4 linked regions of the Homo sapiens genome follow. The protein of the gene in region 2 interacts with the protein of the main gene of each other region in a biochemical or structural test. Each region holds a gene or a part of one and is shown on either strand. Other genes may lie near its edges.

The links.
Region 1: the proteins of FBXL17 (region 2) and KBTBD8 form a complex in vitro, tested with the Homo sapiens proteins (one study listed by BioGRID).
Region 3: the proteins of FBXL17 (region 2) and KLHL12 form a complex in vitro, tested with the Homo sapiens proteins (3 studies listed by BioGRID, with this or other methods).
Region 4: the proteins of FBXL17 (region 2) and PRMT1 form a complex in vitro, tested with the Homo sapiens proteins (one study listed by BioGRID).

What each region holds. Positions count from the first base shown.
Region 1 is NC_000003.12:67,001,305-67,008,331, forward strand, and holds part of KBTBD8 (kelch repeat and BTB domain-containing protein 8), read left to right. Parts: intron 1-1,890; coding exon 1,891-3,005; intron 3,006-6,617; coding exon 6,618-7,027. UniProt on the Homo sapiens protein: Substrate-specific adapter of a BCR (BTB-CUL3-RBX1) E3 ubiquitin ligase complex that acts as a regulator of neural crest specification.
Region 2 is NC_000005.10:108,372,072-108,379,098, forward strand, and holds part of FBXL17 (F-box/LRR-repeat protein 17), read right to left. Parts: intron 1-7,027. UniProt on the Homo sapiens protein: Substrate-recognition component of the SCF(FBXL17) E3 ubiquitin ligase complex, a key component of a quality control pathway required to ensure functional dimerization of BTB domain-containing proteins (dimerization quality control, DQC).
Region 3 is NC_000001.11:202,903,229-202,910,255, forward strand, and holds part of KLHL12 (kelch-like protein 12), read right to left. Parts: intron 5,897-7,027; coding exon 5,782-5,896; intron 1-5,781. UniProt on the Homo sapiens protein: Substrate-specific adapter of a BCR (BTB-CUL3-RBX1) E3 ubiquitin ligase complex that acts as a negative regulator of Wnt signaling pathway and ER-Golgi transport.
Region 4 is NC_000019.10:49,680,259-49,687,285, reverse strand, and holds part of PRMT1 (protein arginine N-methyltransferase 1), read right to left. Parts: intron 6,800-7,027; coding exon 6,698-6,799; intron 5,377-6,697; coding exon 5,221-5,376; intron 5,170-5,220; exon of another isoform or gene 5,091-5,169; coding exon 5,027-5,090; intron 3,360-5,026; coding exon 3,217-3,359; intron 2,533-3,216; coding exon 2,445-2,532; intron 2,365-2,444; coding exon 2,249-2,364; intron 1,194-2,248; coding exon 1,043-1,193; intron 682-1,042; coding exon 560-681; intron 1-559. UniProt on the Homo sapiens protein: Arginine methyltransferase that methylates (mono and asymmetric dimethylation) the guanidino nitrogens of arginyl residues present in proteins such as ESR1, histone H2, H3 and H4, FMR1, ILF3, HNRNPA1, HNRNPD, NFATC2IP, SUPT5H, TAF15, EWS, HABP4, SERBP1, RBM15, FOXO1, CHTOP, MAP3K5/ASK1, MICU1 and NPRL2.

The sequences.
Region 1 (7,027 bases), on a different chromosome or scaffold from region 2:
AATTAGAACGGCTGGAAATCTGGAATGGCTGTTTCATGATACCAGTAACTCATCAGAATTGAAATTTGTATGATTATTAGAAATTTTTTGCTGCTCTGGATTTTGTGTGAGGAAGTGCCCTGGCTTCATTTATGTTGAGTTTACATGAAGAACTTACTAGAACAGAGGAAAACTCATGAAGTGTGAGACCACTCCTGTGTGTAAGATGAGCCTATTCAAGTCAGCAGTAGTTCCCATGATAAAGGGATATGTGGTAATGTCTTCCTTTGGGAGTTAATGTCTCCCTAATGCAGGGCTTTATTTTTCTTTTTAATTGGTAGCTGTATCGGTGAGTCTTTCAGCACCTGAATTGAAAACCAGCACATACGTAGGAACATCTAGTTTTTAGTCATCAAAAAAGCCAGTGTGATACTAAATTAAAATGTACATTGTAGAAGTAAAAACAGGACTCGAAGATGATTAACCTGGGCAGCAAGTTGAGTCCTTGTACCTCCAGTGTTTCTCATACTGCATTTTAAAATTAATTCCATGAATTTGAGAGATATTTTTTAAGTGACTGGAAATCTTTGCAATTCATTTTTCATAAGATCACAAAAATTAAATAGGATGAGTCTGGATCATCTAGAATGAAACTTTAAAGGAGCGAAAAGAAAGGCAAATGATGTTTGCAAGTGACTAATACTTAAAGAGCCAGGCTGCTTAATGTTTCGGTCAAGAAAATCCCATAAATGCAACAATATTTTAATAATAGAAAAAACCAACTTGGTCTCGAAGGTAAAAGTTTGGGGTTTTAAAAACCATTATCTTCAAAGAATCAGTTAACTATTAAACTCTGTTTAAAACAGGCATTATGTATTGACTCTACCATAATCTTTATTTATGTCTAGATTTAGGTAGGTAAAATATGGTATCTTTGAGAAAATGAAGTATTTCCTTTTAAGCAAATGTTCTCAAAATTTCCAAGGGTAAGTGAAGTGATTATTATATTACTTATAATGGTTAAGGCAGCATTCAAAAGATGACAGTTTTAAAAAGGAGTAGGTGGAGAATATGTACTTTTAAAGAACTTCTTGCTTTTCTAAGATGAACATTTTAAAGATATATTTTGGATACAAGTTGCCTTGTAATTTTCACCAGGACATGAAAAGTTTTTATTAGGTTGTTTCTTTGTATGCTAATGTATCATGTTGATACCTTTATAGGTATTCTTTTTTTTTTTTTTTTTTTTTTGAGATGGAGTCTCACTCTGTCTTCCAGGCTGGCACTCAGCTCACTGCAACCTCCGCCTTCCGGGTTCAAGCGATTCTCCTGCCTCAGCCTCCTGAGTAGCTGGGATTACAGGGATGTGCCACCACGCCCAGCTAATTTTTTATTTTAGTAGAGATGGGGTTTCACCGTCTTGGCCAGGCAGATTTTGAACTCCTGACCTTATGTGATCCACCCACTTTGGCCTCCTAAAGTGCTGGAATTACAGGCATGAGCCACCACACCGGGCCAGTATTCTTAAGCTTTCTGACTGGCATGGCCCAATTTAAGATCTGATGTCCCTAAGGCAACTTGACCAGAACTCTGGATAGGGGCTTCTAGGAAAATAAAGTGACCTGGAATATGTGTGTCACCTTTTGATTTGCATTTACTTAGGTGTACTCTCCTTTTTTCATAGTTGGCACACAGCGAGCTAGCCCTGAGAATATGGGTTTTGAGGTTAGCCAGACTAAATCCTTCTGATACATTATCAATTTTTACTCCTATTCAGAATATCAGGGACTATTTTAGGAAATATTCTGTTTCAAAAGGTTATCTTTGTGGTAACTTTGTACTTTTAAAATCTTGCCACAATAATTTTGATTTATAGCACACGTGTAATATTAACCACTCTTTCCTTCTTAGATCCATGTTCACTAGCGGCCTTACAGAAAGTACTCAAAAAGAAGTTCGAATAGTTGGTGTTGAAGCTGAATCGATGGATTTAGTGTTGAACTATGCCTACACTTCCAGAGTTATTCTTACAGAGGCCAATGTTCAAGCCTTGTTCACTGCAGCTAGCATCTTCCAGATTCCTTCCATCCAAGACCAATGTGCTAAGTATATGATCAGTCATTTGGACCCACAGAATTCTATTGGGGTCTTTATCTTTGCTGATCATTATGGTCATCAGGAACTCGGAGATCGATCAAAAGAATACATTCGTAAAAAGTTTCTGTGTGTCACCAAAGAACAAGAGTTTCTCCAGTTGACAAAAGACCAACTGATAAGTATACTAGACAGTGACGATTTAAATGTAGACCGAGAAGAGCATGTTTATGAAAGCATTATAAGGTGGTTTGAGCATGAACAGAATGAAAGAGAAGTGCACCTTCCAGAAATTTTTGCTAAATGCATACGTTTTCCTCTGATGGAAGATACCTTTATAGAGAAAATTCCACCTCAGTTTGCACAGGCTATAGCCAAAAGCTGTGTAGAAAAGGGACCATCCAACACCAATGGCTGTACACAGAGGCTTGGAATGACTGCTTCTGAAATGATCATATGTTTTGATGCTGCCCACAAACACTCAGGAAAGAAGCAAACAGTGCCTTGTCTAGATATAGTCACAGGAAGGGTGTTTAAACTATGCAAACCACCAAATGACCTGAGAGAAGTTGGGATTCTTGTATCACCAGATAATGACATTTACATTGCAGGAGGGTACAGGCCAAGCAGCAGTGAGGTCTCCATCGACCATAAGGCAGAAAATGATTTCTGGATGTATGATCATTCCACCAATAGATGGCTATCCAAACCATCCTTGCTTCGAGCCAGAATAGGCTGCAAACTTGTCTATTGCTGTGGTAAAATGTATGCAATCGGAGGTCGTGTTTATGAAGGTGATGGGAGAAACTCACTAAAATCTGTTGAGTGCTACGACAGTAGAGAGAATTGTTGGACGACTGTTTGCGCGATGCCAGTTGCAATGGAATTTCATAATGCTGTGGAGTACAAAGAGAAGATCTATGTTTTACAGGGTAGGTGCCTAAGTGATTTAGTTTTTCATGGAAGGGTAACACATCAAGTGGTGGTTTACTTAATTATACTGAAACAGTTGTGTTCCCGTTAATTGAGGAATACCTCCAGCTTCCTTATCAAACTATTGGAACAGTCTGTTCTGTAAAGAGCTATAAAGAAAATAAACTCTTGAATTAAAAAAAGGCAGGTATTGTTAAATTACTAAAATAATCCTATAATTTTTAATGATTTTGTGTCTTGATATCATGTAGAATAACTATTTTTGAAAACATTCTTTAATAAATAATAGTTCGGCATTTTGGGATAACTATTTCAGAGTAGTTTGTAGGACTTGAAATAAATAGCAAGGTTGTTACATGGCTGTTTTTGCTCTTGAGTAAAATTGAGATGTTGTAGCAACTGGTATTCTGTGGAATTTACTGGATTAGTTTAAAAGAGAAAAGAACAAAGCATTAATTAAGTTATACTATTTAGTTACCAAAGAGTTTTATATAAGCCTTATTATTGCAAAAATTATGAAATTTAATTACAAAGAGTTTGGAAGTATGGTCTTCAAGTTTCACCTTCACTGCTGTTTATGTTGCCTTTCATAATACATTTTCAATTTTTTTCACCGGAAAACTTTGAGATGTCCCTTTTTTTTGGTTTGCCATTTTAAGTGGGACTATCTGATATATGTAGTGTTTGTTTTGTTTTGTTTTCTGTTTGTTTTTTTAACTGTTAAGGACTACTACTTTGGCAAAAATACAGTAGAGGTAGAGTGACTGAGTCAGAGTAAATAAGACATTTGATTCAAGGCTCTGATTTGTGATAACTATTTTCCTTTTATTTGGTTTCTTACACATTTTAGTTGCTTGAATGTTTAATGCAGTGTAGATAATAGCAACATCCTTATTCCTCGTATGTGTCTCTTAATTGATGTTTTTCTCACACTACTACTTAAGGAAAAGGAGCAGCTTCTATGAAGATATACAGTCATGTGCCATGTAATGTTTTGGTCAATGATGGATCACATACACAATGGTGGTCCTATAAGATTATGATAGCATATTTTTACTGTACTTGTTCCATGTTTAGATATGTTTAGATACAAAAATGCTTCCCATTGTGTTACAGTTGCCTAGAGTACTCAGTACAGTCACATGCTGTACAGTTTTGTAGCCTAGGTGTGTAGTAAGCTCCCATCTAGGTTTGTGTAAGTATGCTCTATGATGTTCTTCCCACAAGGACAACTATCACTTAATGATGCATTTCTCAGAATATGTCCCTGTCATTAATTGATGCATGACTGCCCTTATCCCATTGTTTTCTTTCTTTCTTCTTTCCCCTCCCCCTTCCCCTTCCCTTCTTTTCTTTCATTTCTTTCTTTCTCTTTTTTTTTTTGAGGCAGGGTCTCACTCTGTCACCCAGGCTGGAGTGCAGTGGCATGATCTTGGCTGACTTCAACCTCCGCCTCCTGGGTTCACATGATTCTTCCACCTCAGTCTCAGGCATCTGCCACCATGCCTGGCTAATTTTTTTATTTTTGGTAGAGTCGGCGTTTCACTATGTTGACCAGGCTGGTCTTGAACTCCTGACCTGCAGTGATCCACCCACCTTGGCCTCCCACCATTGTTTTCTTTTAAAAATTGTGTTCCTTGCTCTAATCCTTTATTTAACTAAAAATTTCCTAGTAATATCTGAGCTCATTTGTTTAAGTTCAGTGTCAAGTTAATTCCTCAGAAGGAGTTGTACTCTCTGGTTCCTTATTTTAGTTAAATAGAAGCACAGGCCATGATTTGGGTTTGCTGTCTTGTGGAAAAATGGAATATAAGAATGGATGTATGATCCGTCCAGTATACTTGGATAGGTTATGTCATCCAGTATGATGAAGCTGTCTGTGTATGTGTGTATTTTGGTCTTACTGCCTAACTGTTAGTTGGTAGAGGTAGAATTAGATTCCTATTTGGAATGTGAAGTTTGTATATTAATGCAAATACTAAAGCAAACTAGCAATGAATTAATAGAATTTCAGGGCTGGAATTATTAACATCATTTAATTTGAGGTTATATTTTATATAAGAGGACTCTGAAGCCCTAAGGGTTTCTTAATTGCATATTATTAGCTTTAACTTTTATTAAAGAGTACTTTAGATTTTAACATTCAACTTCTTTGGTGTGTCGTCTTTACTTTCTTATCTATAAGAAATTTATAGAGAAGTAGCACACATTACAAAGTTTAAATTTCCTACCTTATTTATCGAGAATCCTGTTACAAGTTAGGCAATAAGGGCAGATGATGTGCGAGCAAATCTGGGAGCTTTACAAGCTATTTTAAGTTAGTTGAAGGCAAAGCATCACTGTTACGAAGTACGTAGTTGAATTTGTAGATAAGAGTAACCCTAGTTCAAAACAGTTTTCAAGGGGAAGCTCAATTTAGAATCTGGTATTTCTAATCTAAACAAAGCCTCTTTACATAAATAAACCTGACATGCATAGTCAGAAGCTTATGTTGTACTATCTGTGGCTATTGAAGTATCATTTAATCTGTTCATAAAGTGTTCAGATTTTTATTACAAAGATTTTAAACAAATGCTATAATTAGCAAAACTATTGTAAATCTTCACTACTTTAATTCTTTCAGACATTTTCATATTGGCAGTCTGACTCAGCATACCTTTTTATTATCAAATCAAAATAGAAACTGACTCAAAGTCAACATCACAAACCATGTATGTGTTTTCTATCTTATTAAAGTCATGTTTTCTCCTGCTGAATATTTCTCTTTGCATTATAGCAACATTCAGGTAAGCACATCAGTGACCCATAAGCATAAATCTGCACAATTCCATCTGCTGTCTTCTAATTAAATAGCATACACATTTATCATGGCATATTTATGATGATGTTACATGTATGCATTTTGGTCTTACTGGCTGAACGTTACTAATAATGCTTTTTTAGAGCTAGAGTAAAATGAATTTTCTATAAACACACAAATTGGATAGAGCAAATAGAATCAAGTTTGTGTTTTTTTTTTTTTTTTTGAGATGGAGTCTCACATTGTTACCCAGGCTGGAGTGCAGTGGCGTGATCTTGGCTCACTGCATCCTTCACCTCCTGGGTTCAAGTGATTCTCCTGCCTTAGCCTCCTGAGTAGCTGGAATTACAGGTGCCTGCCACCACACCTGGCTAATTTTTGTATTTTTAATGGAGATGGGGTTTCACCATGTTGGCCAGGCTGGTCTCAAACTCCTGACCTCAAGTAATCCACCCGTCTCAGCCTCCCAAAGTGCTGGGATTACAGGCGTGAGCCACTGTGCCTGGCCAGAATCAAGCTCTTAACAATTCTGCCATCAAGCCCAAGTAACTCCTTGTACCTTCCCAATACAAACCTCCCAATTCAGGTTGATTATAATATTATCTGTTATATTGTGTCATGGAATGACAAAGTTTTAAGGTATTTTGTAACCCATATGAATGTATCTCTGGAGATTATAAAAGAAATGTTTTAGAAAGTGAAATATATAGCAAATTATGCCCTTTAATCTTTAGAGGTTGTAGTTACAACATATAACCAAAAACCAAACATAAAAATTTACATATTCTTGTTTTCTTTTTTTTTTTTTTAGGAGAATTTTTTCTCTTCTATGAGCCTCAAAAAGACTACTGGGGTTTCTTAACCCCCATGACTGTGCCTAGAATCCAGGGCTTAGCAGCTGTATACAAGGACTCTATCTACTACATAGCTGGAACCTGTGGAAATCATCAACGTATGTTTACTGTAGAAGCCTATGATATTGAGCTAAATAAATGGACTCGTAAGAAAGACTTTCCATGTGATCAGTCCATAAATCCATACCTTAAACTGGTACTTTTCCAGAACAAACTCCATTTATTTGTTCGAGCTACTCAAGTGACTGTTGAAGAACACGTCTTCAGAACCAGCAGAAAAAATTCCCTTTACCAATATGATGACATTGCTGACCAGTGGATGAAAGTGTATGAGACCCCAGATCGGCTCTGGGACCTTGGCCGGCAT
Region 2 (7,027 bases):
CAGCTTCATGCTGTAAAAGAAGTTTCCTCTCATATAATCCTGTCCAAGTGCCACCAAATGAAGCTTGTTGTGTGTTACCACTTCTTATAATCATATCTCTTTCTTGAGAAACATCAAAATCCCTTGAACCTCTACAAGAAGAAAGAATCAGCAAACCTAAAGATAGGTAAATTAAAATTACTGAGTCTGTGGACTGAAGGAAAATGAACATACATGTGGAACCCCACCAAACATACTAATATACATATAATTGGAGGCACAGAAGGAAAAGAGAGTGAAAGAGGCCTAAATATTTGAAGAAATAATGGCTAAAACTTTCCAAATCTGATGAAAGGCATGAATCTAGCTCATAAACTCAATGAATTCCAAGCAGGATAAATGCAAAAGGATTCATATCAAGATGCATCATAATCAAATTGTTGAAAGACAAAAACCGAGAGAACCCTGAAAGCAGCAAGAAAAATGCAACTCGTGAAAAGGACACTCAATACAATCAACAACTGATTTTTCACTGGAAACCATGGAGACCAGAAGGCAGTGGGATAACATATTCAAAATGCTGAAAGGAAACTGTCAACCAAGAATCCTCTATCTGGTAAAACAACCCTTTAAAAATAAAGGCAAAATTAAGATATTTCCAGATAAACAAAAACTGAGGAAGTTTGTCACTGGTAAACTTCCCCTAAAAGAAATACTATAAAGAGTCCATCAGGCTGAAATGTAAGGGGATCAGACAGTGGCTTAAAATCACATATGAACTAAAGGATACCAGTAATTGTTGGTATTTACATAGGTAAATATAAAAGTGCATATTACTGTGTCTTTGGTTTGCAATGCCTCCTCTTTGCTATATGATTTAAAAGACTACATAAAACAGTAATTATGAATCTATATTGATTGGCACAAAATTCATAAAGCTGTAACTTGTGACAATAACAACAAATACAGGAGCAAAGTTTTTATATACCACTGAAACTAAACTGGTATTAATTCAAACTAAATTGTTATAATATATAGTGTTAATTATAACCCCCAGGGTAAATACTAAGAAATACACACATAATTATTTACTATATTTTATTTATATATATAATTCTCATATATACATATTCTCACATTACATAAATATAACATATCTAAATATATTATATTAATATAAATATAATATATATCTAAATATATTAATATAAATATAATATATATCTAAATATATTAATATAAATATAATATATATCTAAATATATTAAATTTTTATTAATATATATCTAAATATAATATATCTAAATATATATTAATATAAATATATATCTAAATATATTAATATATTTAGATATGTTATATTTATTTATATAATGTGAGAATTATATGTATATATGAGAAGGGGATCAAAATGGTACACTAGAAAATATCTGACACAAAGAACAGCATCAGAGGAATTGACAAACAAAAAATATATAAGACATAGAGAAAACAAATAATAAAATAGTAAATGTATTTCCTTATCACTAATTACACTAAATGTAAATGGGCTAAACTTTCCAGTTAAGACACATAAGGCCAGGGCCAGGCACAGTGGTTCACACCTGCAATCCCAGCACTTTTGGGAGGCTGTGTTGAGTGGATCACTTGAGCCCAGGAGTTCAAGACCAGCCTGGGCAACATGGCAAGACCCTGTCTCCACAAAAAAAATGACAAAATTAGCCAGCCATAGTGGTATGCACCTATGGTCTCAGCTACATGGGAGGCTGAGGTTGGAGAATAGCTTGAGCCCAGGAGGTCGAGGCTGCAGTGAGTTGTGATCGTGCCACTGCATTCCAGCCTGGACAACAGACTGAGACCCTGTCTCAAAAAGAAAGACACAATGAATAACAGGATAAAATGTAAAAACACAATCCAATTATATACTGTTTACAAGAGACTCAATTTAGATCCAAAAATATACACAGATTGAGAGTAAAAGCATGGAACAATACATATAGCAAAAACTGACAGAATTGAAAGGAAAAAAACCAAAAAGAGTTCCGCATTAATGCTTGGAGACTACAACGTACAACTTTCAATAATGGATAGAACAACCAGACAAGAGATGAACAAGTAAACTGAACACTTGAACAAGACTTAAACATGGCCTATCAGATATCTCTAGAACACTACACAAAATAGAATACACATTCTTCTGAAGTGCATAAAAACATTCTCAAAGACCAAAGTCTAAAATACTACACTACAAGTCAAGTCTCAACAAATTTGAAAATATTAAGCTCATACAAAGTATCTTTTCCAATGACAATGAAAGGAAATTAGACATCAGTAACAGAGGCCAGGAACAGCAGCTCAGGCCTATAATTCCAGCATTTTGGGAGGCCGAGGGAGGCAGATCACTTGAGCCCAGGGGTTTAAGACCAGCCTGGGCAACATGGCAAAACTCCCATCTCTACCAAAAAATACAAAAATTAGCCGGGCGTGGTGGCATGTGCACCTTTAATCCAAGGTACTAGAGAGGCTGAGGTGGGAGGATTGCTTGAGCCCAGAAGGCAGAAGTTGCAGTGAGCCATGATCACACCACTGCACTCCAGCCTGGGTGATACAGTGAGACTCTGTTTCAAAAAATGAAAGAAAAGAGAAGAGGAGAAGGGAGGTGAGGAAAGAGGAGGGGAAATCACTAACAGGAGGAAATCTGGAAATTTCACAAATACATGAAAATTTAACAATCAACAAGTAAGAAGAACTCATAAAGAAAACTAGAAAATAATTTGAAATTAATGAAAACAAACACATATAGCAAAATCTATGGGATACAGAAACAAGTAACTACATTTAAAAAGAAGAAAGATCTTGAATTGGCAACCTAAACTTCTACCTCAAGAAACTATAAAAAGAAAACTCAATACAAACTAAGCAGAAACAAGGGGGAAAAAATACAGCTAATACAAATGAAATATAGACTAGAAAAATAATAGATGATCAACAAAACCAAAAGTTTATTCTTTAAAATGATGAGGCCGAGCACAATGGTTGACACCTATAATCCCAGCACTTTGGGAAGCCAAAGTGGGAGGACTGCTTGAAGCCAGGAGTTTGAGACCAGCCTGGAAAACATAGCAAGACCCTGTCTCTACAAAAATTATTTAAGAAATTAACCAGGCATGCGCCAGCATGCCTGTGCACCCAGCTACTCAGGAGGCTGACAAGAGGGAAAGTCACTTGAGCCCAGGAGTTTAAGGCTGCACTTCCATTTACATAGCTATAAGCTATGATCACACCACTGCACTCAAGCCTGGGTGACAGAGACCCTGCACACACACACACACACACACACACACAAAATTGGCTAGACTAAGAATAAAGAGAGAAGACTCAAATTTTAAAATCATGTATAAAAATGGGAACATTAATATCAACCTTACAAAAAGTACACAATTATAAGAGAATACTATAATTGTATGCTACCAAATTGATGAAATAGATGACAAATTCCTAGAATATAAACTATAAAAACTGACTCAAAGGAAATAGAAAATCTGAGTAGATGTACAGCACGTAAAAAGATGGAATATGTAATAAAAAACAAAAAACTTACAACAAAGAAAAGACAAGGACCAGATGGCCTCACCAGTAATATGCTTCAATAAGAATGAACACCAATCTATCTTAAATTCTTCCAAAAATGAGAGGATGGGATACTACTTCCCAACTCATGCTATAAGGCCAGCATATCCTGATACCAAAGCCAGGCAAAGAAATCTCAAAAAACTACAGACCAATGTCCCTTATGAATACCGATGTGAAAATCTTCAATAAAATATAAGGAAACTAAATCCACAGTATAGTAGAAGGGTTATACACCATGACCAAGTAGGATTTATCCCAGGAATGCAAGGATGGTTCAACATATGAAAAAAACCCATGTAACACACCATATTAATAGAATAAAGGTAAAAAGCAAAAACAAAACACATGATCATCTCAACTGATTCAGGAAAAAGCACTGGACAAAATCTAATACCCTTTCTTGATTAAAACATTCAGAAATATAGGAATAAAAGAACACTTCCTCAACCTGAGAAAGAGCATCTACCAATAACCCCTAGTTATCATTATACTTAATGGTAAAAGTCTAAAAGTTTTTCCCCAAAATCAGAAACAAAACAAGGATTTCTGCATCATGACTTCTATGCAACATTGTACTGGAGATTCTGGCTAGGGCAATTAGACATGGAATATAAACAAAAGGCATCCAGATTGGGGAGCTGGAATTAAAACATCCTCTATTCACAGATGTCATGGTCTTATATAGAGAAAATCCCAGAGAATAAACACAAAAATTAATTTTAGAGCTAATAAGCAAATATTTTTATATACTAGCAATGAATCATCTGAAGATGAAATTAAGAAAGCACTTCCATTTATAATAGCATCAAAAAGAATAAAACTTTTTTTACAGCTCTCATTTCTTTATTGAGATTTCCAATTTGTTGGGTCAATGTCATCATATTCTCCTGTAATTATTTAAATAATGTTTCCTTTCTTTTACCATGTTTATAATAGCAGTTTGAAGTCTTTGCTAAGTCTAATATCTAGGCTCACTCACAGTCAGTTTCTATTAACTGCTTTCTTTTTCCCTCAGCATGGGTCACATTTTTCTGTCTCTTTACGTGTCTTAAAATTTGTTGTTAAAAACTGGACATTTTGGATAACATAGCCAGTGTATATTCTTTTTTTTTTTTTTTTTTTGAGACAGAGTCTCACTCTGTTGCCAGGCTGGAGTGCAGCGGTGTGATCTCGGCTCACTGCAACCTCCACCCACGGGTTCAAGCTGGGATTACAGGCGTGAGCCACCGCACCTGGCCACCAGTGTAGAATTTTATATTTCTGAGCCTTTTAACATGTCTGGCCCTAAACTGTGGAATCTGTGTCCTGGGCAGTGTGACTACATCTGTTCAGATTTTAATTCACATATATATGTTTTAGCCTGGCTTTCTAGAGAAGTCATTCTGTGTCTGAATATCTTAGTTTTCAGCTATGTACATGCCAAAGATATGCTCAAACAGCTTGAGCCTGCTCTTTAATCTGTATCTGGGTTAAGAAGGGCACATTCAAAGCTTAAAGAATTCTCATCTGCCTTGGCCCTTGCTCTCAGTTAGACAACCTCAGGTCTCCCCTACACATGTGCATAGTTTCACGTTATGCCAGGATATGTGAAGAGGTTATCCCTTTATGGTTCTCTCATTTCCAGGGTCTGCCTTTTAATTTATAGCTACTCTTCCACTCACCCCAACTGGCACTACAACCTTAAACTAGCAAATACATGGTTTTTCCTTGTTTTCCCCTACCAAGTTCAGTACATTTTATCGACAAAGGTTTTTACTCATTGCCCCAAATTGAATCAGCTGTCTGACAGCGAAGCTGCTGGTTTTCCAAACTACAATTCTTGCCAAAAGTGCTGGGACAGGAGGTCACAGTAGAAGCCCACGCGAGAATGCTGTAGACTTGCACTATTCTTACCTGAAGATCTAACAGTTTTCCTAAGAATAAATGTTTCTCAATGATTTTCTTTGCTTTTGGTTGATTTCCAGAGTTCAAATAGTTTTGGGCAATTCTGCCATTTTTATACTTGTGTGTGGAAAGGATTCACCAAACTCTTCATGCAGCCACAGGTGAAAGTACATTTCTTGCGGATATTTTTATGCTTGTCCTCCTCATTTTATAAATGAGAAAATAAAAACTTAGATGGCCTAGATCATTTTTTAAGGTTAAAGGACTATGTGGTCTTAAAGGGCTAATTTGTCAGTTAACAATCAACATGTAGGGCATGGTCACTGCAACCAAGTAGCATCTTGTTTGAAACCTGCCTGACTTTAGCTATTATCTTTTATATAAAAGTGATATGGCTGTTATAAACCACAAGTCATTGACTAAATCCAGATTTGTTTATCCAAGTGAAGAAATTTAAGATGTGGGTAATAAGCATAAAATAGGATATTTTGCCAAAGGCAAACAACTTGTTAAAGAAACTATTATATTAAAATGCATTTTTGACTGCTTTAAAGCAGGTAATATTAACCTATATAAAAGAGAAACATCCTTGTTGATATTGAGCCAAAAATTAGCCTATGATGCAACATATAGTTTAGTTTCTCTCCTCTGCCATAAAAAAAAAAAAATGGGCAAGTATGGTAGCTTTCCCAAAAAACATCCTTTAAATTCTTAAACATCCTCACATTTCTCTCCCAAATTCTACCTGCCTCGTTTTTGTTTTTTGTTTTTTTGTTTTGTTTTGTTTTGTTTTTACAGCTATAGTAACTTCCTAGCATAAAAGATGAAGCAAAAGCAATACAATTATAATAGCTATTGACTCCCTACCAGGAGAACAGGGCATAATTTCTAAGAATGTTTTCCAATAGTGATGATAGACTTGTGCCTCTCTACGCAACCCTTCTAATATTAGAAAAGAAAAATTGTCATAGCTCCATAAGTCTTCCCTTCTCCAAGTCAAACAACTCCAGTCCTTACCAGCAGAGCCAGAATCCTTTCACCACCACATGGCTCTACCGTGGCTCCAACAGCAACTCCAGTCAGAATATGGACATTCCTTAGAAATATCTCTTCGTGGTGTGGCGTATTCACCCTGAGTCTCAGCACAGACTCTAAACACCTGATGATACATTCGTTCGTAAGTATTTACTGAGCGCTACTATATGCCAGACACTGCACTTAAAGGAGGAGACAGAGCAATGAACAAGATTACGAATCCAGAGTCGCTGCACCCAAAAACTGGGGTTGGCAGACACTGAACAATCGCTAATTCAATTCATCCCAGACAGTACAGCTCACTTCGTGCTGAATACCACTAGGACCATCAGACTCAGACAGAGAATCTTTATTAGAATTTTCTAATACAAGGAATGGAAATCTACATAACATGTCCAAATACACACAATAGGGCAAGCCCATGGTAATTCCCATATGTCCTTTAGACAAAGTTTTCAACAATCCTCAGGAAAAAATATGAAAGAGAACAACGCGG
Region 3 (7,027 bases), on a different chromosome or scaffold from region 2:
ACACTCCCACCAACACTATAAAGGTGCCAACTCATTCTACTTTCTGAGGCACTGGATAGTTTTTAAATCTCTGACACTCTGGTAGGCAAAAAATTATGTTTAATTCTTTATAACTAATAAGACCCTATTATTAATTAGGTTGAACTCCCTCCCTTGTATCTAGTAGCCAGCTTTACTTGCCCTTCTGCGAACTGTACACTCAAATCTTTATTGTTTCTCTCATGCATTCTTGTTTTTTTTTTCTTTTTTGAGACAAGGTCTTGCTCTGCTGCCCAGGCTAGAGTGCACTGGTGCAATTATGGTTCACTGCAGCCTCAGCCTCGACCTCCTGGGCTCAAGCATCCTCCTAGCCTCCCACTTCAGCTTCCCTAGTAGCTGGGACCACTAATTTTTTTCTTTTCTTTTTTTTTTTGAAACGGCGTCTTGCTCTGTGGCCCAGGCTGGAGTGCAGTGGTGTGATCTTGGCTCACTGCAACCTCTGCCTCCTGGGCTAAAATGATTCTCCTGCCTCAACCTCCCCAATAGCTGGGATTACAGGCATGCGTCACCATGCCTGGCTAATTTTTATACTTTTAGTAGAGACAGGGTTTCATCCTGTTGGCCAGGCTGGTCTCGAATTCCTGGGCTCCATCGCCTGCCTCAGCCTCTCAAAGTGCTGGGATTACAGGTGTGAGCCACTGCTCTTGGCCCTGTCTCATGCATTCTTATGAGCTCTTTACACACAAATGGTTTTAACCCTTTAACCCTTTATCTATCTATCTATGTATCTATCTATCTATCTATCTATTTATCTATCTATCTATCTATGAGATGGAGTTTTGCTCTTGTTGCCCAGGCTGGAGTGCAATGGCACGATCTTGGTTCACCACAATCTCCACCTCCCAGGTTCAAGCAATTTCCCGAGTAGCTGGGATTACAGGCATGTGCCACCAAGCCCGGCTAATTTTGTATTTTTAGTAGAGACAGGATTTCTCCATGTTGGTCAGGCTGGTCTCAAACTCCCGATCTCAGGTGATCCACCTGCCTCAGCCTCCCAAAGCGCTGGGATTACAGGCGTAAGGCACCCTGCCAGGCCAACCCTTTAACCCTTTAAAGGGTTGTTCCAAACCTATGTTCCTAATTTATCATAATTTTGTATATGATTTTTTTATTTATTCAAATATGTTTTTATTCTTTGTCATTTCTTCCACTATTTTGTGCCTAGAAAGTCCTTCTTCCCCAGAAGAACTCCTAAGGTTTTAATGTTTTAACCCTAAGTTGGAGACCAATACTCAAACAATCTGACTCGTGTAAAAAAAAGCTAGTGAAAGAGTCAACCTGAAAGAAGCCTGTTTGTTCTCTGCCAATGATGGAGTACTTGTTAAGTGAGATTTTTATCTTTTTAATGAGAAAAGCTTGTCTAGGACATCTTACAAGAACAGTGTGAAAAAGCACATTTCTAAAACTGAAGAACCTGGCAGTGGCATGGTCATTATTTTTAGAAAGAGGGGAAGGGGAGTGTGTGTGTGCTGTGACACGTTGTTAGAGAAATAAGGCAGATGCAGGACTGCTAAAATAACAGGGTTCAGAGACTCACATTTCCATTTGCACTGATCTTTAGTTCAAAAAAGGAGACAGCCACAAATTAGAAAAGTAATTTCCATTATATCTTCTTTGAGACAGTAATGGGTAAGGTTAATAACTAAAAATCCCTTATTTGGCAGGCTATTTTAACTTGGCTGTCAATTTAATTTCCTTCTGCTGTATGCAGAAGAGTCATTATCCTGGTAGCTGGTTTAGCAGCCAATATGCATAGAGATGGGTAGAGGACATGATGGTAAGAACAATCTACCTGCTAAGGCACTGACAAAGCGATACTAAGAATCTAATTGGAAACTGCTTCAGCATTTCCCTTCTAGAACTTCTGAAAAATAACCTCAAGACTATGAAGATATATAGATTTATAGTTTAATCCCTTAAGGTCAGGGCAATAAGCAAGTTCTCTAACCAAGCAGGAGCCCCTTCTGCTGCCTGTTCAGAGATATGCAAGAAATGTACCTCCAAAGAATCTTCTGGGTTTACTGATTCACAAAAATTTTCATTAGCTTTTAGTTCAATTTAATAAGCAAATAATGAGTGCTATCATGCAAAAAGGAAACATTTTTCTGTGTTGGAAAGTACCTTAGTGACTGAACATTAACTCTGTTGATATAAAGAACTGGTAACCCAGAGAAGTTAAAGGACTTGTCCAAACAGCAAGTTACTAGAGTGAGTGTCGGAAATTGGAGTAAAAATCAAAGTAAGCAAAATGTCTTATCTCCTAGTGCCAGGTTCTTTCCACTACATCACTGGCTTTCATGGTATAGGTTGAGTAACCCTTATCTGAAATGCTTACGACAAGAAGCGCTACAGATTTCAGACACTTTTGGATTTTTGTAATATCTGCATTATTTCTTTGCACAACTATTTGCGCATCCCTAATTCAGAAACCCCAAATCCAAAATGCTTCAATGAGCATTTCCTTTGAGCATTATGTTGGCACTCAAAGTTTTAGATCTTGGAGCATTTTGAATTTCAAGATTTTCAGATTAGGGATACCCAACCCGATTTTTTTTTAGACAGAGTCTCACTCTGTCGCCCAGGCTGGAGTGCAGTGGCGTGATCTCAGCTTACTGCAGGCTCCATCTCCTGGGTTCACGCCATTCTCCTGCCTCAGCCTCCTGAGTAGCTTGAACTACAGGTGCCCGCCACCACACCTGGCTTTTTTTTTTTTTTTTTTTTTTTTGTATTTTTAGTAGATACGGGGTTTCACCGTGTTAGCCTGGATGGTCTCGATCTCCTGACCTCGTGATCCACCCGCCTCGGCCTCCCAAAGTGCTGGGATTACGGGCATGAGCCACCGCGCCCGGCCACCCAACCCAATTTTTAAAAATAATAATTATTTTTTAAAAAACAAAAGTAATGGCCAGGCGCGGTGGCTCATGCCCGTAATCCCAGCACTTTAGGAGGCTGAGGTGGGCGGATCACCTGACGTCAGGAGTCCGAGACCAGCCTGGCCAACGTGGTGAAACCCCGTCTCTACTAAAAAATACAAAAAATTAGCCAGGCGTGGTGGCACACACCTGTAATCCCAGCTACTTGGGAGGCTGAGGCAGGAGAATCGCTTGAACCCAGGAGACAGAGGTTGCAGTGAGCAAAGATTATGCCACTGCACTCCAGCCTGGGCAACAAGAGCAACGCTTCGTCTCAAAAAAAAAAAAAAAAAAAAAAAAGTTCCTACCCTGGGAGGAAAGGCAAAATTGGGAGTTTATTGTTTAATGGGTACAGAGTTTCAGTCTTGTTAAGACAAAAAGAGTTACAGAGATTGATTGTATAACAATGTATTTAACATGAGTCAACTGTACATGTAAAAATGGTTAAGATGGTAAATTTTATGCTAAATATATTTTATTTAATTAATTTATTTATTTTTGAGATGGAGTCTCACTCTGTCGCCCAGGCTGGAGTACAATGGTGCAATCTTGGCTCACTGCAACCTCCGCCTCCCGGGTTCAAGCGATTCTCCTGCCTCAGCCTCCAGAGTAGCTGGGATTACAGGTGTGCACCACCACACTCAGCTAATTTTTGTATTTTTAGTAGACATGGGGTTTCACCATGTTGGCCAGGCTGGTCTCGAACTACTGACCTCAAGTGATCTGCCCACCTTGGCCTCCCAAAGTGCTGGGATTACAGGTGTGAGACACCGTGCCCGGCCTGTTACATATATTTTACAAAAAAGAAAAAAAAGACTTCCATCCAGAAGGTATACAAATATTTTCCTATAATTTCTTCTAATATTCTCATAGTTTTTCACCATTCAGTCCTTCAATCTATCTTGTGTTGATATGTATCTGTGTATAAAGCATATGAAACACAGATCACATTTTGTCATCTTGCAGTAGTAGAAAATACCATCTACAATGCCCTATCTAAAAGTTCTCTTTTTAAAAAAATGCAGTATCTTTGAGTGGTAAGATTATGGATGATTTTTATTTATTTTTTGCTTCTCTGTATTTCTACAAGTTCTACATTGAACATGCAGTACTTATGCCATTAAAAAATATAGGAGAGGGAGCCAGGCATGGTGGCTCATGCCTGTAATCCCAGCACTTTGGGAGGCCAAGGTGGGTGGATCAATTGCAGCCAGGAGTTAGAGACCAGCCTGGTCAACATGGAGAAACCCTGTCTCTACCAAAAATACAAAAATTAGCCAGGGATGGTGGCAGTCGCCTGTTGTCCCAGCTACTCGGGAGTCTGAGGCACAAGAATTGCTTGAACCTGGGAGAGGTTGTAGTGAGCCAAGATTGCACCACTGCACTCCAGTCTGGGTGACAGAGCAAGACTCTGTCTTAAAAAAAAAAAAAAAAGGAAAAAAATTATATATATATATATGGGAGGCCTGTAATCCCAGCACTTTGGGAGGCCAAGGCAGGTGAACTGCTTGAGTCCAGGAGTTCAAGACCCAGCCTGGGCAACAAAGGAAGGCTCTGTCTCTACAAAAAAATATAAAAATTAGCCAGGCATGGTGGCACGTGCCTGCGGTCCCAGCTACTTGGGAGGCTGAGGTGGGAAGACTGCTTGAGTCCAGGAGGCTAAGGCTGCAGTGAACCGAGATCACGCCACTGCACTCCACCCTGGGCAACATAGTGAGACCTCATTTCTATTAAAAAAAATAAAATATAGCGGATAAATCACCATTCTACCTAAACCCATCAGTGAGCAGCTTAATTATCAACTAACACCTTAGCACGCATCATGAGTCCTCAGTCAGATAAAAGGAAACAATAAAACAAAATACCACCCCATACATATAGAGTAATTCATAACTTATAAAATGTTTTTATACACTATACACCTAGGCTTTTGGACAGTGAAGCAAAGAGAATAGGAAGTGGAAAGTATGGTGATATCTGAGTATTTAGTGTGTGCCAGCTATAGTGTTAGGTATCTTATATACATTATCTCATTCAATCCTCCCAACACTGAGATAAGACACTAACTCTCATCTTAGTGGTAGACATACAGGCTCAGATAAATTGATACCTTGCCCAACCAGTCATTGCTGGGGCTTGGATTTGAACCTAGGTCTATTTGCTAAGATAATAGCTAATACACATAGTTATTATGTGCCAAGAAGTGTTTTAAGGCTTTACATAAATAACTTTATTTACTCTTCATAACAATGTTACAGGCAGGTGCTACGATGATTCCATTTACAGATGAGGCAACTGAAGCACACAGAGGTTAAGGTTCCTGCCCAAGTTAATAAATCTAGTACGAGGTAAACTGGTACCTGCACCAACAGTAACTGCCAAAACCCATGTACTTTCTACCACACTGGGCTCCTTTTCTTCCTCTCTTCATTCCGGAATGGAAAAACCACATAAGGGGAAGTGAAGAGGTGGGTGGAAGCATATACTACTTACCTGCCATTATGTGGCACTAAAATTATCTCTAATTCACAGAATCTAAATAATATTGACAAAAAATTGTAACATATTATGTAATGCCTGACAATGTATAAAGTGCTTTTATATTTTATCTCATTTAATTTCCAAATAATTATGTGAAGTAGATAGAGAAGACATCCTTGATTTATAGGAAAGAAAGCTTAGAGTGGTAAAGTGACTTGTCTGAGATGATAGAAGAAAAGGTCTGAAACGAGGTGTCTGTACTTCTTATAGAGTATTATTTTCAACTATGTTGTCACCTGCAAGAAGTAGTTGAAAAGCATCCCCTCATTCTGCCGAGATACCAGCTTACCTAGGCGAGCCCTTGTCCTGGGTCCCTGCATCTGACTCCGAAGTTCAGGCCTCAGATGAAACTTCTTTGCTTCATCAACCAGATCCCTGCATTGTAAACTACAGCGGATGAAAGGCTGAAATATAGCAGACAGCAGAGTTAGGCACTGGGGATACCTGTAATACTATAAGAGTACAAAGAGCACATGCAAATAATTAACTTCTGACTACAGAAAACCAGTTTGCAAAGCCCTGTGATTCCAGGAGTATTGCTGGTAGTAACCATGCTCTCGGTTTCCAGAAATGATTTTTAAAATTTACTTGAAAAATAGATAACATACTAGATGGATCAAAAATCAAATGATATAAACAGATATGTTGAGCAGTATTTCCCATCTATCGCAGCGCTTACATTTAACTATTTTTACATAGTTTGGATGCCCTTCCAGGGATTATGCAAACACAAGTACATAATAACTAATAAGAATTTTAAGGGGAAAACCAAAAAGATTCTGTTATTTTCTGGGTGACAGGAAGAATCATATTTTGTCTGAAATATCTCCCCCAAGGTTCACAGTCCTGTTGTAATTACCATTGTCTATTTCTGACAGCTCTGTACTGGACATCTTTCATTTGCCTCCCAACTCACTCTGTACCTTTTTCCACTCTGCTCTCTGGCTCAGAAGACTGGCCTATATGAACTGTGTCAATAGGGCTTCCTATGCCTTCTAGCTTCTGGTTGGGATCAGCCCAACCAAAGGTCAAGGTTTCTCTCAAGGCAGTGACTCTACACGATTCTCTTTCCTTTAAGGTTCTAGTAACCACTCCTCAACCTTGTCCCTTCAGGCTTAGGGGTTGTTAATAGCTTATGTCCTAGATCCAGGTTATTTCACTGTCTTTTGTTGTTTCTCTGAACTTGCGCCTTTGTAAACAGCTTCTTTATTAAAAAAAACTCTTCTAAAATTGTCCTGTTTTGAGTATAGCATCTGTTTCCTGTTGGGACCCTAAAGGACACAGCTCTAATTAAATGGCACCTCTATTAACCTGACCCAAGAAGTTCTTAGTCGAACTGGAAAGGAAAACAAACAATAAATAGTAGTAAACACTTATGTACAAAGACTTGGTTTTAAAAGTTTTCACATAGTAACTTACTCAATGCTAACAAGAACCTATGAGGAACGTACTATTATCATCCCTGTTTTACACATAAGAAAGCTAAGGCACAAATATATTAAGACATATTAAGTTCACAGAGTAAGTGGTGAATT
Region 4 (7,027 bases), on a different chromosome or scaffold from region 2:
GTCTCCGAGAAGCCCCCCCAGCTCCCCCGGAAGCCCCCTGATCTCAGGTGATGGCAGCTCCTGCCAAGTGCTCAGGAGGAAAAAGAAAGGGGAGCAGAAAACAAAAAGCTGCCTTTCTCCTCTCATGCCTCCCAGCTGGGCTAGAAAACCCCGTGCACTCTACTGGGGGCTGCCTCTTGCCCTGGAGCCCACCTACACCAACACCTGTCTGCCCTGCTCCCAGCCTGACAGAGGTCACCTCCAACTGGCATCACCATGTCACTGACCCCCTTGTCTAGAGTGGAAGCACCAGGAGGGCAGGGTTTCAGCCTGGGTCCCCAGGCCCATAACTTCCGGTGAATGCTCAAGCAATCCTGCTGTGTAGACAGGCATGGGGCTGAGGGGCTTGGGGACCCGGGAATAGGCAGAGGTGCTCGCCCCCGCCAGCTGCCCCCATCCCCCACCCCGGCTGCCCCCATCCCCTACCCCCGCTGCCACCATTCCTCCCCCACCACTCCCCCCCCAATCTACACTCCCCGCCCTAGCTGCCACCCTCCCACCCAGCTGCCCGGAGCCTCACGTTGTTCTTGGCGTTGGGCCGCATGCCGATGGTGCCGAAGATCTCCTCGCCCGTCTTCACGGTCAGGTAGTCCTCCATGTAGAACACCGTCTGCTTCCAGTGCGTGTACGGGGACTCGGGGCCTGGGGGCGCGGGCGGGTCAGCCGGCCTCGGCCTGCTGCCCCCCCCAACCCCACCCTTGCGTTCCCTCTGTCGGAATGCCCACCCCCATGACAGCTGATGGGACTGCTATCCGCGAGTCACCTCCCTGTCATTGAGCTTTGGAGACAGGGACCGTGTCAGCCTTTTGTGGATGAGGAAACTGAGGCACTGCACACTCAGGTCACTTGCCCAAGGCCACGTGACTGCTACATGGCAGAGCTCACACTGGAACACGCGTGTCCCCATGGTTCCTTCTGCCCGTTTCTGTCACCCCCTCCACTACGTGGGTGCGCCTCCGCCCTGGCTCGGGAACGGCCCCCAGCCCTGTGGGCCCCGCCTCACTGGTGGAGAAGCCGGTCCTCTTGTGGCAGCGTGTGAACTCGATGTTGAAGTAGGCCACCAGGGCGTGCACGTAGTCATTCCGCTTCACTTGCAGGCAGAACGGGGAGGTGAAGGTCAGGTCTTCCACCTTGACGGTATAGATGTCCACCTCCTGCAGGACATGAGAGGGCGAGCTCCGGGATGCGTCCCCACCTCGCTTCATCCCCTCCTCCCTCCCTTAAGCTCCCAGAGGGCCTGTGACCTCGCTGTCCCCTTCCTGCTAGCCCTCCCTCACTGGCACCCAGCCTCGGCTCCTCCTTCACTCTGCATCCTGCCTATCCGGCTCCCAATAAACCATGTGGGTTCGAGCCCAGATTCCTTGCTCCCTCCTCTCCAACACCCAAACCTGGCAGTGCCACCCTAACTCTGTCCAGACCTCCTAGAATGCAGGCGCCCCACTCCACTGTCTCCCCAACCCCTTGACAAGTCCAACAACATGATGGCTTCAAACGGCAACACAAATGCCAACCTAAACCCTGCGCCAGTTCCCCTGGCTCTCAGGAGGGTGGCCCGAGTGGGGTCCCTGCCCCTGTAGTCTCCTCTCCTCCCCCACTCAACAACTTACTCCTCCCCGACAGGATCCCCCGGTCAGCCACCCAGCTTCACCCGGCTCACACATCCCAGCTCAACAAATACTCATCGCCGTATTTTTTTTTTTTAAACAGGGTCTCAGAAGTAAAAAAAAACAAAAGGAAAAAACAAAACAAAACATTGTCACCAAAGCTGGAGTGCAGTGATGTGATCACAGCTCACTGCAGCCTTGAACTCCCAGGCCCAAGTGATCCTCCCGAGTAGCTGGGACCTCAGGCACATCTCGGAGCCCAGCCTGGCCCCGTGCTCTTCTGCAGTGGCCCGCGTGCATGTGCATCCGCTCATCGCCCTGGGGTCCTGCCTTTCCGTGCATGGGCTGTGGGCTTTAGCTGCCAGCTTTGGGTGTTTCCTCCGCCAGAAGCCAAGTGCCAAGCATGGTTCTCACACAGCAGCGCTCACAAAGATATTTAAAGGACGAAGTGTCTTTCCTGGGCCTCTAGCACCACCTCTGGCTGGCAGATCAGGCTCTGAGACCTCAGGCCAACATTCTGGGCCCCAAAGTCCCATGCCAGGGCCAGGTGATGGCCTCTCTTTGGTTTCAACCCAGGGGGCACCTGGCCATGCCCACCCCCTCACCTTTATGAGGCAGGCGTTGGTGACCAGCTGTTTGGGGTCCACGACATCCACTAGGGGCTCCTTAATGGCCACATCTTTGATGCAAGACATGTCGAAGCCATACACGTTCTCCCACCCTGGGGAGGCAGGCAGGGAGGGGGTGAGCCCGCAGCAGCCCACCCGAGGCCCCGCCCGCCAGCTCCCGGGCCGCGCTCACAGTGGATCTTGTAGTCTTTGTACTGCCGGTCCTCGATGGCCGTCACATACAGCGTGGCCCGGTCTGGGAAGATGAGGCCATCGGGCGCCTACAGAGGGGCAGGGCGAGGCATGAAGGGTGGGGCCTGGCAACACTACCCTGAGTCTTGCCTCCAAGATGTGGCCTCCTGCCCTGGTCTGGGCCACCCTCATGTCGCAGCGGCACTCACCCCTCGCCCCCTGGTCTATTTCCCACACGGCCGCCAGAGGGCACCCAGGGGCACCCCAGTCAGCTCCCGGCCCTTGGAGGTTCTGGGGATCCTCAGACCCTCCCTAGCTGCTCTGAGAGGAAAAGCACGGGGTCCCATAAGCCTCCACAAAATCTGCACACGCCCTGTCACCCCTCACCTCCACTCCTCCTCCTGCTGCCGTTCTAGACCCTCCTTCCACACGGGCCTCCCTGCTGTTCCACACGCAGCAAGGGCACACCTGCCCTGGCTGCCCCTCCGTATGCTTCATCCACCTCTCCGTCACCTCACCTCTCCCGGGGAGGCCTGCTGGGGCCTAAGGACCTGGGCTATTGCGCCGCTACGGATTTCCTGTTCCTACGACCTCCCCCACATCGCACCATCTCCCTCCAGGGTCTGTCACACCTGGCTTGGGCTGTGGCTTTCTAACACCTTGCAGCTAAGCCCCCACAGTAAGTCCCGTCTGTGGGAAAAATTGAGCGTGGTTTTCGTCTTCTACCTGGACCCCAGCCCACGCGAGCTGCACCCGTCCCGCTGGGGCCTCACCAGCCACTTGTCCCGGGCATAGAGCACGGTGTTGAGCATGGACTCGTAGAAGAGGCAGTAGCCCATCCACTCGCTGATGATGATGTCCACCTTCTCCACTGGGAGCTCCACCTCCTCCACCTTCCCCTTGATGATGGTCACCACTGCGGGCGGACAAGGGTGGCCACGTCAGCCCCCGGGAGGCCTGCCCCTCACCTCACCTCCCCCGGGGGCTAGAGCCTGGGGACCCCACTTCAGTTCAGAGAACTGCGTGAGCAGAAGCCATGAACCCTTCTAACAGTTTTAAAATTCATACATCGTTCTGGACATTTTTGAGGCAGGAGCAGAAATTTTATGTGGACTGGGTATCAGGTGATGTTACTTTTTTTTTTTTTTTTTTTTTGAGACGGAGTCTTGCTCTGTCACCCAGGCTGGAGTGCAGTGGCGTGATCTCAGCTCACTGCAACCTCCGCCTCCCGGGTTCACGCCATTCTCCTGCTTCAGCCTCCCGAGTAGCTGGGACTACAGGTGCCAGCCACCAAGTCCGGCTAATTTTTTGTATTTTTAGTAGAGACAGGGTGTCACCGTGTTGGCCAGGATGGTCTTGATCTCCTGACCTCACGATCCGCCCGCCTCGGCCTCCCAAAATGTTGGGATTACAGGCGTGAGCCACTGTGCCCGGCCGCGATTTTGTTTTTAACTGGGTGGTTTTGATATAATAAGTAACAGCATGATCACATTCTCAAAACAGCCTTTATCTATTAGATAAGACACAAGCAGACGCATTTACCGGGAAAATTACATCACAGTGGGAATTTGCTTCAAATGGACTCGTGCGTTCATTATAATAATCTCTTTTTAAAAATCACTTCAGGATGGCACGGTGGCTCACGCCTGTAATCTCAGCACTTTGGGAGGCCAAAGTGGATGGATCACCTGAGGTCAGGAGTTCAAGACCAGCCTGGCCAACATGGTGAAACCATGTCTCAACTAAAAAAATACAAAAAAAAAAAAAGTTCACACCTGTAATCCCAGCACTTTGGGAGGCCAAGGCAAGCAGGCAGATCACGAGGTCAGGAGATCGAGACCATCCTGGCTAACACGGTGAAACCCCGTCTCTACTAAAAAAACAAAAAAATTAGCCGGGCGTGGTGGCTGGCGCCTGTAATCCCAGCTAATTGGGAGGCTGAGGCAGGAGAATCACTTGAACCCAGGAGGCGGAGCTTGCAGTGAGCTGAGATCGTGCCACTGCCCTCCAGCCTGGCAAAAGAGTGAGACTCCATCTCAAAAAAAAAAAAAAAAAAAAAAAAATGCTGGGGATGTACCTATGATGGTGGTCATGCAAAAGAGCGGATGCCGCAACATCCTGGAAAGTGTTAAACGACATGACAAGCAGGTGTAAGAAGCCAAGGGCAAGAGGCTGGTATGAAATGCTACTGGCGTGAAAATTATGCACGAGAATGTAAATGCATTTACGTATGTATGTGTTTGTAGGTCCAGACTTCTCTGGAAGTTAGTGTTGGTTAAACTCAGAGGAGGGCAGCTGGGAAACAGGGAAGGCTTCTCACTGTGGGCCTTCCGTGGCCAACCACGTGACTCTATTACTCATTCAAGAAACTAGAGAGTGCTTCTTGCCCTAATTTTAAGACTGCGGTGCTAAGCCTGTGATTTTGACACTCAGATTCTCAGGCGGCCGGCAGCCCAAAAGACCATGGGTTGGGAGCTGCTGAATCTGTGGTCATCTGTAGACCCCACTGCTCTTCAGAGGGCCCTGGGGAAGCAGGGCATCACCCCCTCCACTCCCACAAACCCATCCTCTTTCTGGGCTCACCGTGGTCTAACTTGTTGGCTTTGACGATCTTCACCGCATAATCAGAGATACTGGAACACTCGATCTGAGGGCCCAGGAAGAAGGGAGGGTGAGACCCATCCCCTGCCCCCATCACCTCCATCCAATCCCTGAGCCCTGATGGGCTCCCCTCCATCCCTCAGGCCCGGCCCCGCCTGGCCACCCTGGAGACTCACCCCGATGACCTTGCGGGCCCCGGCCTTGGCAGCAAACATGCAGAGGATGCCGGTGCCCGAGCCGACGTCCAGCACCACCTTGTCCTTGAAGAGGTGCCGGTTATGAAACATGGAGTTGCGGTAAGTGAGGGTGCGCACCTCGTCCTTCAGCATCTCCTAGGGCAAGAATGGCACAGAGACGCCGTGAGGGGCCCCATATCCCCAGCTGGAGAACAGCGTGTCCTGAGAGCTCGGAGGGCCAGAGCTCGGCCCTCTCGCTTTCTTCCATGCACCTCAGTTTCCCTTTTATATTTATTCATTTATTTATTTTTATTTTATTTTATTTTTTGAGATGGAATCTCACTCTGTTGCCCAGGCTGGAGTGCAATGGTGCAATCTCAGCTCACTGCAACCTCCGCCTCCTGGGTTCAAGTGATTCTCCTGCCTCAGCCTCCCAAGTAGCTGAGATTATAGGTGCACACCACCATGCCCGGCTAATTTTTGTATTTTTCATACAGATGGGGTTTCACCATATTGCCCAGGTTGGTCTTCAACTCCTGACCTCAGGTGATCCACCCACCTCAGCCCCCTAAAGTGCTGGGATTACAGGCGTGAACCACTGCGCCCAGCCAGTTTCCCTTTTTAAAAAATCAGATTAGATGGTCTAAACTCCAATCTTGGCCGGACTTCACCACTGCTACCTAAGAACCAGTGAACCCTGGCTTTTAAAAGTCCTCAGGCTGGGAGCGGTGGCTCACGCCTGTAATCCCAGCACCTCAGGAGGCCAAAGCCGGAGGATCACTTGATCCCAAGAGTTTGAGACCAGCCTGGGCAACAAGGCAAGATTATCTCTACAGAAAAATAAGAACATCAGCTGGGCGTGGTGGCGCGCGCCTGTGGTCCCAGCTACTCCGAAAGTGGAAGTGGGGGGATCACCTGAGCCGGGGAGGTCGAGGCTGCAGTGAGCCATGATTGCACCAATGCACTCTAGCCTGGGCGACAGAGCGAGACCGTCTCTAAAAATAAAAAATGGCAATTTTATGCATATTTTGCCACAATTTTATGAAAAAGGCCTCAGGGGGAAAAGAAAATTCCTTAGAATGCCACCCCAGCTTCGTTCTGGGATTTCAGTGTCTTCAGTCAGATCTGAAGTGTGCAGAAGCTGTTAGGGCGGGAGCAGCCGGGGCGCAGTCCCACCGCCGGTCACTAGAGGGCGGCAGAGACCAGTGGGCCCTGCCCGACCTCTGGCTAAGGCCCCAGGCACGCATGCGCTCTCCCACCCCAGCCTTCGGCGCGAGGCCCCTGCAGAGATTCAGGCTAACCTCGGTCTCCAAGGCAACGGCTTGGCGAGGCGACCCTAGGAAGTGCGCAGCAGAGGGGCAGGGGGGCGGCCTGCGGCCAGGGGAAGCAGTGCGCATGCGTGGGAAAACAGGTTCCACCCCTTCCCCAACATTTAAGCCCCCCTAAGATTGGGGCCTTGGGGACTGTCCCCACTGACCTCGTGGATGCCAAAGTGTGCGTAGGAGTCAAAGTAGTAATCTTTGGATGTCATGTCCTCAGCGTTGGGCTTCTCACTGCTTTCCGCCTGGCCACAGGACACCTGGGAGGGGGCCGATGGGATCATGGGTCAGATCTGGGGGCTCCCCACAGCCTCTTAAACCTCCAGCGCCCTACTTTTCCCTGAAGAGTAGTATAGAACCCCCAAAATCATACCATGACAACCCTACAGCCCCCGCCTGCCATCTTGCCCCCCCAGGAACCCCAAAACCTAACAACCCCATTTTCCACTTCCAGGACCCCCCCAGAGCACCATCCAGGGGAGCACCCC